Linked DNA regions of Homo sapiens. The protein of the gene in region 2 interacts with the protein of the main gene of each other region in a pairwise test. Each region holds a gene or a part of one and is shown on either strand. Other genes may lie near its edges.

Region 1 (4,779 bases), on a different chromosome or scaffold from region 2:
TTCCTTCATTTCTTTCAAGACATATCTTAGGAGTGAAACTGCTTTTGGGAAGCCTTCCCCAAGTCTGTTAGGTAGAATCCATCATTCCATCCACTGTACTCCAGCAGAACATTATGTGGACTTGCATGTTATACTTATTCCTTTTACTGTGCATAATTCTCCTGTGCTTTTCTCTTAGTGTAAATCAGAAGTTGTAAAATTCACCAAATATGAAAATAATCATTAGCTCATTAGCATTTATTACAAGTATACTACTTCCCTGGTGCTATACTAAGCACATCATATTTATCTTGTTACTTAGCCCTTATAATAACCATATAAGGCAGACACCATTATTACTTCTATTTTACAGATGAGTGATGGGGAAAGAGCTTTTGGAAGTTTGAGTTAATTCCTTATGGTCATGCAGCTAAGTAAGTGTCTGAGACTACAGAATCTGAATTATTTCCCACTATGCAGTGTTTTGTCTGGTTTGTTTCCCTATCTGTCACCCTCACGTGACATATAATAGACCTCAATAAAATAGTTGTTAAGTAAGGGAATGACTGAATGACTGGTCATAGCTATTCTCTAAATGTTTCTTGAGTGAATTTATTTATATAGTCAGAGGAAAATGAATAATGGTTTCTTTTTCTCTTTAGCAGGAATTTGACCCTCTAGGGCATGAATACTGTGCTGTTCAGTTCTGAGCTGTGCTAGCAATACCCTTCAAAGGAAGAGCAATGGCTGCAGCAGCAGCTTCTCACCTGAACCTGGATGCCCTCCGGGAAGTGCTAGAATGCCCCATCTGCATGGAGTCCTTCACAGAAGAGCAGCTGCGTCCCAAGCTTCTGCACTGTGGCCATACCATCTGCCGCCAGTGCCTGGAGAAGCTATTGGCCAGTAGCATCAATGGTGTCCGCTGTCCCTTTTGCAGCAAGATTACCCGCATAACCAGCTTGACCCAGCTGACAGACAATCTGACAGTGCTAAAGATCATTGATACAGCTGGGCTCAGCGAGGCTGTGGGGCTGCTCATGTGTCGGTCCTGTGGGCGGCGTCTGCCCCGGCAATTCTGCCGGAGCTGTGGTTTGGTGTTATGTGAGCCCTGCCGGGAGGCAGACCATCAGCCTCCTGGCCACTGTACACTCCCTGTCAAAGAAGCAGCTGAGGAGCGGCGTCGGGACTTTGGAGAGAAGTTAACTCGTCTGCGGGAACTTATGGGGGAGCTGCAGCGGCGGAAGGCAGCCTTGGAAGGTGTCTCCAAGGACCTTCAGGCAAGGTATAAAGCAGTTCTCCAGGAGTATGGGCATGAGGAGCGCAGGGTCCAGGATGAGCTGGCTCGCTCTCGGAAGTTCTTCACAGGCTCTTTGGCTGAAGTTGAGAAGTCCAATAGTCAAGTGGTAGAGGAGCAGAGTTACCTGCTTAACATTGCAGAGGTGCAGGCTGTGTCTCGCTGTGACTACTTCCTGGCCAAGATCAAGCAGGCAGATGTAGCACTACTGGAGGAGACAGCTGATGAGGAGGAGCCAGAGCTCACTGCCAGCTTGCCTCGGGAGCTCACCCTGCAAGATGTGGAGCTCCTTAAGGTAGGTCATGTTGGCCCCCTCCAAATTGGACAAGCTGTTAAGAAGCCCCGGACAGTTAACGTGGAAGATTCCTGGGCCATGGAGGCCACAGCGTCTGCTGCCTCTACCTCTGTTACTTTTAGAGAGATGGACATGAGCCCGGAGGAAGTGGTTGCCAGCCCTAGGGCCTCACCTGCTAAACAGCGGGGTCCTGAGGCAGCCTCCAATATCCAGCAGTGCCTCTTTCTCAAGAAGATGGGGGCCAAAGGCAGCACTCCAGGAATGTTCAATCTTCCAGTCAGTCTCTACGTGACCAGTCAAGGTGAAGTACTAGTCGCTGACCGTGGTAACTATCGTATACAAGTCTTTACCCGCAAAGGCTTTTTGAAGGAAATCCGCCGCAGCCCCAGTGGCATTGATAGCTTTGTGCTAAGCTTCCTTGGGGCAGATCTACCCAACCTCACTCCTCTCTCAGTGGCAATGAACTGCCAGGGGCTGATTGGTGTGACTGACAGCTATGATAACTCCCTCAAGGTATATACCTTGGATGGCCACTGCGTGGCCTGTCACAGGAGCCAGCTGAGCAAACCATGGGGTATCACAGCCTTGCCATCTGGCCAGTTTGTAGTAACCGATGTGGAAGGTGGAAAGCTTTGGTGTTTCACAGTTGATCGAGGATCAGGGGTGGTCAAATACAGCTGCCTATGTAGTGCTGTGCGGCCCAAATTTGTCACCTGTGATGCTGAGGGCACCGTCTACTTCACCCAGGGCTTAGGCCTCAATCTGGAGAATCGGCAGAATGAGCACCACCTGGAGGGTGGCTTTTCCATTGGCTCTGTAGGCCCTGATGGGCAGCTGGGTCGCCAGATTAGCCACTTCTTCTCGGAGAATGAGGATTTCCGCTGCATTGCTGGCATGTGTGTGGATGCTCGTGGTGATCTCATCGTGGCTGACAGTAGTCGCAAGGAAATTCTCCATTTTCCTAAGGGTGGGGGCTATAGTGTCCTTATTCGAGAGGGACTTACCTGTCCGGTGGGCATAGCCCTAACTCCTAAGGGGCAGCTGCTGGTCTTGGACTGTTGGGATCATTGCATCAAGATCTACAGCTACCATCTGAGAAGATATTCCACCCCATAGGGGATGAGAAATTATCAGTTTCTTCTGCTCCCAAGCCAACTTCCCTTCCCTTAGTTCTTGGTTGTTAGTGGCACATGCAGAATAGACTCAGCCTATGTCCTGATTCCAGCTGGGTAGTTCTAGAACTTCAGAAGCTCCATCTTTTAATGTTTTTATTTGTTATGTCCCCCTCCCCGCTTCCCACCTAAATTTAGAGCTTTAAAAGATGCACTGCCCAAATAGGACACACGATGGTGTTAGCTGAAGTTTGATTAGCAATTAGGCACTTCCAAGGCTTTAGTAGAGAGAGCCACTTTAGCCCTTTGTGCCATGTTTGAAATTTGCCCTTGTATTAAATCCTTGATTTTTTCCCATTTGGCTTTGATGCCCTTGATCCATTGTTTCCTTCCTACTATAATGTGCTTCATCTGTGACACTTTCTCTTGAACTCTGATTGGATTCACTGTGCATGCTTCAGTGGGATCTGCTCCACCTTTCAGTGACATTTAAGACATCATATTCCCGTAACATTATGTCTCAGTCTGATCGTCTTTACCAGTATGAAAGTCATTCATTTAGTGCTACCAAAGGGGATACACAAGCCCTTTAGGAAGCAGTACCTCTCGCCTGGAGGATCTGTGCCATCTTGGATTGAGAATTGCAGATGTGACAGAATGGATTGACCCTAGTTGGTTGGTATTGATGACTTCAGCCTGGAAATTGCTTGCCTTTTAAAGAAGCATATATGGGTTGGAATTATGCCAAAGCATAGGAAGCTGGGAATAAGCAAACAAATGCTGATATAGTCAGCAAATTTGGATAGTCTCTAGGGCTCATCATTTTTCATACTACCTCTCTCTTCTGGCCTGTGTCTAAGGAATTGTACAACATAGGCCAGGGCCAACAAAGTGGAGAGGTGGACACATTTTCATGTTCATTACTAAAACAAACAGCAAAACTATTGGTTTGTTATTCTGTGTTTTCCTCAAGTCAGTACATACTATTTGGTTTCAGGATTTCTTTCCATTTCTCTATCAAGCATTAAATAATTGAGAACTGTTTCTTCATCTCTGGTGTTCATGTCTTTTAATTAAATACGGAATTTTGGAGATGATAAGAGGGATAACCTGCGCTATGCCATTTTGCTTCCTTATCTCACTGTGTTCTTTCAGAGTGTAGATATCTACCCAGGTCAAAATTCAGCCAAAAGCACTATTATGTAAAGATAATAATCCAAATCTTTCTCCCAAATACATGTGTACAGAATCATCCCCCAAGGTTTAGAGTCACCAATACCCTATTCTGAGCTTCTGCTGTATGTTTTATGTTTATAATTACAGTTCACAAAAAGGAAGTTAGTCTTGTTTTTAAGATCAGAAGTGGGTGAGAGGACCTGTGATGAGGTTCCTGAGGGTTTGGTGTTTACTAAGTAATATATCTTACTCTAGGTGCAGGGCTGATGGCAAGCCAAAGAGCAACTGCCTTACTTTGATGTAAACAAAATTTGCTAAACTGAGCTGCTCAAAATTGTTTTTATGGTAGTAGTGTTTCTTTGGATTGTATCATAATAGCTGCCAAAGGATAGGTAAAGAGGTCATTAAAATGATGTTGAACTAGTTTGTCTTGTTCTTTTCATCTGGAGAAAGCCCCATATTCTGATTATGAAATTGCATCCGATTTTCAAAGATTGGGTAATTGAGAGGAAATTGATCCAATTGAAAGTGCATCACAAATGACTCCACTAGTTATTAGAGCCACTTTATCTGTGGGGGCACCCAGCAGCAGGAGATCTGTCTTTGCTGTCAGTGGGGGACTTGCTGAGGCAATAACAGTGGCTCAGGCCTTTGGCACACAGTTTGCAGTGGAGAGAGAAATATAATATTGTGGGCAGGCTGAAGGTAAATGAGGCCAGGAATCCTCCAGCTGTCTGTGCTTTTGAAAGAGGTGCCATCACTGAGTGACATTCAGCATTTAGATCTCTACCCATCTAAACCAGTCATGCCTTTTCCCTCAAGTAAAGCAGTTATCTGTTGGCTCAAAATGGAAGTGTGATCTGAGTCTTTTTCCTTTTTCCCCTTTGATGTGAATATTTTAGGCTGTGCTTAGTACAGTCGAT
Region 2 (7,284 bases):
CTGACCTCAGATGATCCACCCGCCTCGGCCTCCCAAAGTGCTGGGATTACAGGCATAAGCCACTGTGTCCAGCCCCAATACATTTTTTTGAGACAGGTCTCGCTCTATCACCCAGGCTAGAATGCAGTGGTGCGATCTCAGCTCACTGCAGCCTTGACCTCCCAAGTTCAAGCAATCCTCCCACCTCAGCCTCTTGAGTAGCTGGGATTACAGGTGCATGCCACTATGCTTGGCTAATTTTTTAATTTTTTGTACAGATGAGATCTCACTATATTGCCCAGGATAGTCTTGAACTCCTGGGCTCAAGCGAACCTCCTGCCTCGTCCTCCCAAAGTGTTGGGATTACAGGTGTAATTCACCACACCCAGACAATACAATTTTTTTAATTTAAAAAAAAACACCTGTTGAATAAATGAAATGAATCGCCATGTTCCAGTTGAACTTTATGTTGCTTTGTGAAAGCTGGGAGGACGAGGCCCTCTCGCATGGATAGATGTGTGCTGTCTTCCCAGAAAATGAGTGTGGGCCTGATGGGGCCAGGCTCACGGCACGCCAAGGTTGCTCACACCCTGCCCACTTCCCTCCTTATCTGCCACCACTCATGCACTAAAAATGGACCGTCACACAGCCTGATGGGACAACATGACCTCTGACAGCTACAAAGAAGCTGTGGCAGCAGAGTCCAAGGTGACAGGGAGAGTAGCCTATGGGGTGGGAGCAGCCCACAGAGCCAACCCCACCGTGTATGGGGGTTTTTTCACCCTGTGTTTTGCAGACTGCGTAGCTCAGCCTCGCAAGTGTGTATGCCATTTAAAAATCGAGGAGGGAGGCCGGGCGCAGTGGCTCACGCCTGTAATCCCAGCACTTTGGAAGGCCGAGGCAGGCGGATCATGAGGTCAAGAGATCGAGATCATCCTGGCCAACATTGTGAAACCCCGTCTCTACTAAAAATACAAAAATTAGCTGGGCATGGTGGCGGGCACCTGTAGTCCCAGCTACTCGGGAGGCTGTGGCAGGAGAATCACTTGAACCTGGGAGGCAGATGTTGCAGTGAGCCGAGATTGCGCCACTGCACTCCAGCTTGGCGACAGAGCAAGACTCTGTCTCAAAAAAAAAAAAAAAAAAAAAAAATGAATATGCAACAGAGACCATATGTGGCTCACAGGCCTAAAATCCTGACCCACATAAGCTTGAGGTAATCAACCCACTTGCAGAGTAAAACCATTTGGGCTTCATCTGTCCTTATAGGTTAATGGACTCTAAGCTTCAGCTGCAGGAAACATAAAAAGTGAAATATTTATGAGCCTCTGCAGCCCTCGGGGAATGCCTGTTGTCCCAGGTACTGTCTAAACAGTCTGCTGGGGCTATTTCTGTACTGAGAGAACTGGCCGGCCAAAATGTCAGGACCCAGACAGACCTTCCAACCAGGAACCAGCTTTCTTCTTCTCACTGGAAACGCAAGGCCAACAGGAACAGCCTGACAAAAGCGGCTCTTGGGATCACATGACTTTGTTGTTTGCAAAACCCTAAGACGCTTGCAGTGAGATTTTGTAGAGGGTCTTGGATCTTGCAAATGTTCCTCTCTGGGCAGCCCACCCCTCACTGTCATGACCCCTGCCCTCCACTCCCCGCCACTCAACGCTGAGCAGCTAGCCTGGGGCTCAGAGGGTGGGCACAGCAGCAGCGGGACAGCCATGGCTGGGCCCTGGAACTCCACTGAGAACCTGCACTAGCCTCAGGACAGTGCTCCGGCCCTGCCTCCCTGCTGGTCACTACCAGTTCTGCCTGTCTGACTACGGAAAGGCAGGTGAGCAAGAAGCCGTAGCAAAGCCTGCAGGTGCCACAGTGTTCGGAGCCGACAGTAGGGCGCTCCTGATGGTGACCCGGCAGCAGCCTCAGCCCAGCCTCTGCTGTGGGGAAGTCCAGGCTTCCTGCATGGTCACTGGGGTTGGATGCTGAATGTGCTGTGAGGGGCCTAATTGTTCCCCGAGTGCTGAGGGCATTAACAGGATTTAGTTCCCCCTCGGTTGGCAGGGCATCACCGAGGCACTGATGCGGTCACAGCCTCAGCTGCAGAGAGAAGAGCACGCTGCCATGGCTCGAGGAGAGGGCTCGGGAAACTGGGCTGTATGTTTAGAAAGTGGCCTGCGGGAGGTGCTGGGGGTGAACGGCAGACCAAGAAAATAAGGAAACCTTTCCACACACACAGGCACACACATGCACAGACACACACACAGGCACATACACACAAACACAGGCAAAGACACACACAGGCACAGACACACACAAACACAGGCACACACACGGGCACAGACATACACAGGCACACACAGGCACAGACACACACACAGGCACACAGACACACACAAACACAAACGGGCACACACATGCACAGACACAAACAGAGGCACACACACAGGCACACGCAGGCACAGACATACACAGGCACAGACACACACATGCACAGACACTCAGAGACCCACACAGACACAGGCACACAGAGGCAGGCACACACACACACAGGTACACACACAGGCACACACACAGGCACACATACACAAACCCCACACACACACAGGTGCACACAGGCACACACGCATATGCACATACACACACAGGTGCACGCAGCCACACGTGCACAGGCACACATGTACATACACACAGGTGCACACAGGCACACATGCACATACACATACAAAGGCGCACACCTAGGTGCACACACAACTCTGGCTGGCCATGAGCCCACTGAGCTAGCTCCGCAGGGAGCCGGTGCCAGGGGCTGAGGCCATGGGCGCAGGGCCCAGAGGCCAGGCTGAGCACAGTCCTTGCCCTTGGCCCGCCTTGTCTGTTTCCTAAGCCTCTTACTTCTTTACAATCACCAAAAGGCCTAGAAGCTTCCCTCTTCACAACTCCTAGACTAGGGCCTGCCACACGACAGGTATTTGATAAACACGTCTTGACTAAACTGACCGCCAAGAGCCACAGCCGAAGCCCCTTACTCCTACAATCACCCACGTCCCTTTCCTGGTGAGCACGGAGGACTAGTTCCTGGATTCGACTTTTAGGGGCCTCTTAGTTCCCTACCAGCAAGAATGAGGACTATGACCCACTTCAAGTCAGAGTGTGGCGTCTGTAGCAAGCACGGATCGGTCAGCCTGAAACACGGGACTTGTCCTGCCTCTGCACGCCTGGCTGGGCTGCCTGGGAGAATTTCCTCCTCTGGTCGGCTCATCTGCAAAGGAGGGGCTGGGCTGCTGGACCCCCAGTGCCTTCTGCTCTCATGTCAGGCACTGCGATTAGGCTTGCCACATGCTCCCTACGGGTGCGCCAAGAGTCACCACCGTTTTACAAACAGAAAAGCTGCTGTTTGGTGGAAAAGTAATTTTGATGGCACAGTAGGCTGGAAAAGGGCAGGGTCAGCCCGGGGACCTGACCTTCAGGACAGTGGCTGGGTGTCGAAGCAAGAGCCTAGGTTCAGAGCTGTAGGCAACACACAGTGAGAATCTCAACTAAGGGAGGAGAGGAGCAAAGGGATTCAGGACACACGGCATCTCCTTTAACCCACTCCGACCCATGGGATGAGTATTACAGTTTCTGTCTCCCTGGTGAAGCAGCAGCCTTAGAGAGGTGGTAACCAGCCATGGGACCCACACTGGAGGCAAAGCCCGGATTGGAACCCAGATCTGCACCCAGGGACCCTGCTCCTTCACTCCCAGGGCTGCCTCCTCATTCATAAGGCTTTGCTGGCCTAGTGCCCATGATGAGCTCCCAACACCGACTATGAGCCCCTACCATGAGCCGCAGGCCCTCACCACGAGCCCCTGGCACCATCCCACAGGACCACATGACTCACGAACCATCCCTGCTGCAGCTGAGTGGAGGGTGTGGAAGTCCCTAGCTGAGTTTCAGAACAGAACAGACCAGACCCCGATAAATGTCAGCTTCCCATCTGCCCTCCAAGGCATGGTGACGTCTCAGGTCTCAGTTCCCACATCAGTGTCCATTCATCACAGCACCTCTCCCCATGGAGAGAACTCGCTTCTCCATTTCCTTCCGCAAACCATGTGACTGCAATGGCAGGAGTTTGTCATAGGGCCCAAGACAAAGCTGAACCAGCCTGTTCCATCCTGCCAAACTCGGGAATCTGGAGAGTCTGAGTTCCAGGCTGGGAATTCCGAGGAAGAAGGGCTGGGATACGTGGCTGCCGAGGTGTCACCGAGCCCACCGCCACATCAACTTCTGCCCCTGCAGGGCACAGACCTGTCTGCCCAGGAGCTGCCTGGGCACAGAAGCTACCGCCTTTGCTTCTGAGCCTCTATCCTGAAACCTGGAGGTAGAAGGCACCATAATTCCTCATGAGCAGAGACCCCTGCCTGCCTTAGGTTTCAGAGTCCTGCCCCTCTCCTAAGTCCCCACTAAAATGGTGATTTGACACAGCGCTTAGAACAGGCTCTGAGTCAAAGGCCTTGGTGCAAAGCCTTGGTCCCGCCACTTCCTCATGCAGCCGGGAGCAGAAGCTCAGCTGTTCCCCAAAGCTGGCACAAGGAGCCACAGCTGGAAACAACAGGTAGTCAGCACTCCATGTTCCAAACATTTGGGGCCAGACAGACACTGCATACAGACGGCCCGGAGAGAGTTAGCAGAACCAGTCCTACCACAGCCGCCTCCCCATGTTCCCAGGCTGAACTGGAAGGTGGAGAGTGGAGATGGAGAAAAAGAGTTAACAGCCTGCTACCAGCAGGGCACCTCACCCCAGGTCAGAAAGGAGAAAGACACATGGACACTGCTCACAGGGATTGGGCAGGAAGGGGGCCCGGGCAGATGCTTGCTGAGCTGGGACTGTTTGCAGGTGGAGTCCCGGTGGAGCCTGACCTGTGCCCTGGTGATCTGGAGGCACCAGGCACTTGGAGGGTGATGCTTGCTTCCACCTGGGATTTTTACAGGTGGGAGGGCCCCTAGGCACGCAAGGAGTGAAAAGCAGCCAGGTGCAGGGTCCTGAAGACGCTAGTTAGGCATCCAGCCTGTCACCCATGTGGCCAAGTGGGAGTGGAGGGGCCTCAGTGATCCCATGGCTTTCTAAGAAAAAGCCCTAAAAGGGCTTTTCGAAAAGGGGCCTAAAGCCATGTGGCTGCCCCCTGAAGAAGGAATTGGGATGGAAGGGAGACCAAAGATGGGGCTAGGAAGAAGCTGAAGTCCATCATGTCAACATGGCCACGTGGCAGTTACCCACAGAGGCGGCGCCAGAGCAAGACCAGAGGCCGACACGCTGGCAGTCACGAGAGAGTGTGCCCCTCCCCTGGGCTGCCTGGGAAGATGGAAGGGGAGAGGCTGAGAGCATGGGCACACCCTCTGCACCAAGCCCTGCAGCTCGAAGCCTGGCTGGCCTTGGACAGTGTGGGAGAAGCTTTAAATCAGACGTAAAGATTTAATAAAGGAGTATGGGCCAGGCACAGTGGCTCACGCCTGCAATCCCAGCACTTTGGGAAGCCGAGGTAGGCAGATCACCTGAGGTCAGGAGTTCAAAACCAGCCTGGCCAAGATGGTGAAACCCTGTCTCTACTGAAAATACAGAAATTAGCCAGGCGTGGTGGCGCACACCTGTAATCTCAGCTACTAAGGAGGCCGAGGCAGGAGAACTGCTTGAATCTGGGAGGCGGAGGTTGCAGTGAGCCAAGATCACACTACTGCGGCCTGGGTGACAGAGCCAGACTCCAAAATAATAATAATTACCGAGTATGACTAGAAAGCCATAGGATCTGCCTGAGAGGTCATTAGGGGTGGAAAGAGACTTAACATGGCAGAATTTAAAAGCAGTGATTTAGGGGTAAGTTAATCAAATTGAGCTTGCTCATGATCGCATTACCCTCAGATGTGTACCCAAGGGCAGCCGGGGCTGCGTACTGCAGCATCGTGTGCATTGCACGGAGGCTCGGACGGGGCAGTGTGGGCAAGTGTTCTCACCCCTCCGAGCCTCAGTTGGGGGGTAACAGTACCCTCTGGGTCACCAGGGAGGGTGAGATGAGTAAGGCCCAGGTACAGGGACCCTGCAAAAGCACAAAGGACTGACAACAACAGAAAAAAGCTTCCTCCCCATCTCGGACCTCTCCTTCCAGTTCATTCCCAATTCCCAAACTGCCCCCACGACTTCCTTCCCACCATCCTCTCTTCCTCCCCACCCAGCTTCAGCCTCCAGACACCTGCTTCTTCTCAGAGGACTCATGTCTCATTCAAGTCTCCTGACGCTTCAATAACCATTCCCTTCAGTGCCGCAAATCGTGCCTTAACTGTGCTGTATGTATACTTTGATTCTCTGCAACCTGATTTTGCGCTCCAGGAGAACACGAGGTTAGATTTAGAGTTGGGTATGTTTTCCCATTGTTAAGAGGTTTCATGGCCAGGCGCGGTGGCTCACACCTGTAATCACGGCACTTTGGGAGGCCGAGGTGGGCAGATTACTTGAGGTCAGGAGTTTGAGACCAACCTGGCCAACATGGCAAAACTCCATCTCTACTAAAAATACAAAAATTAGCCAGGTGCAGTGGCAGGTGCCTGTAATCCCAGATACTCGGGAGGCTGAGGCAGGAGAATCGCTTGAATCCAGGAGGCAGAGGTTGCAGTGAACCCAGATCACCACAAAGCAAGGCTCTATCTCAAAAAATAAAATAAAAAGAGGTTTCACATACTGTACATAAAAGACAAACCTCACACTCAGACAGCACAGATGTGTGTTGAATCCCAGCTCCACCATGCACTGACAGTGTGACCTTGAGCAAGTCATCTACGACCTCTCAGCCTCAGTTTCCTCCTCTGGAAAATGGGGACAATACCGGTACTTTCTTCAGAGAGTTCTGGTAAAAATAAATATAACCAATTGCTTAGAAGTGTGCTTTCTTGGCCGGGTGCGGTGGCTCACACCTGTAATCCCAGCACTTTGGGAGGCCGAGGTGGACAGATCACAAGGTCAAGAGATCAAGACCATCCTGGTCAACATGGTGAAACACTGTCTCTACTAAAAATACAAAACTTAGCTGGGCATAGTGGCACACACCTGTAGTCCCAGCTACTTAGGAGGCTGAGGTAGGAGAATCATTTGAACCCGGGAGGCGGAGGCTGCAGTGAGCCGAGATCGAAAGTATGCTTTCTTAAACATACTTCTTAATTGTTAGCTGTCAGCCCCTTCTCCAAAAATCTCATTTACTTGGTCTGAGATGGGGGCCCAAGCAACAGTCATTCTTAAAGCTCCCCACTTTAGGTAATTCCAATGGTTTGTGTAAGAGAAAGAGG

The links.
Region 1: the proteins of GPR137B (region 2) and TRIM32 interact in binary tests that used the Homo sapiens proteins (3 or more experiments, as listed by UniProt).

The regions. Positions count from the first base shown.
Region 1 is NC_000009.12:116,697,021-116,701,799, forward strand, and holds the end of TRIM32 (E3 ubiquitin-protein ligase TRIM32), read left to right. Parts: intron 1-352; exon of another isoform or gene 353-413; intron 414-641; 5' UTR 642-722; coding exon 723-2,684; 3' UTR 2,685-4,279; downstream 4,280-4,779. UniProt on the Homo sapiens protein: E3 ubiquitin ligase that plays a role in various biological processes including neural stem cell differentiation, innate immunity, inflammatory resonse and autophagy.
Region 2 is NC_000001.11:236,145,266-236,152,549, reverse strand, and holds part of GPR137B (integral membrane protein GPR137B), read right to left. Parts: intron 1-7,284. UniProt on the Homo sapiens protein: Lysosomal integral membrane protein that regulates the localization and activity of mTORC1, a signaling complex promoting cell growth in response to growth factors, energy levels, and amino acids.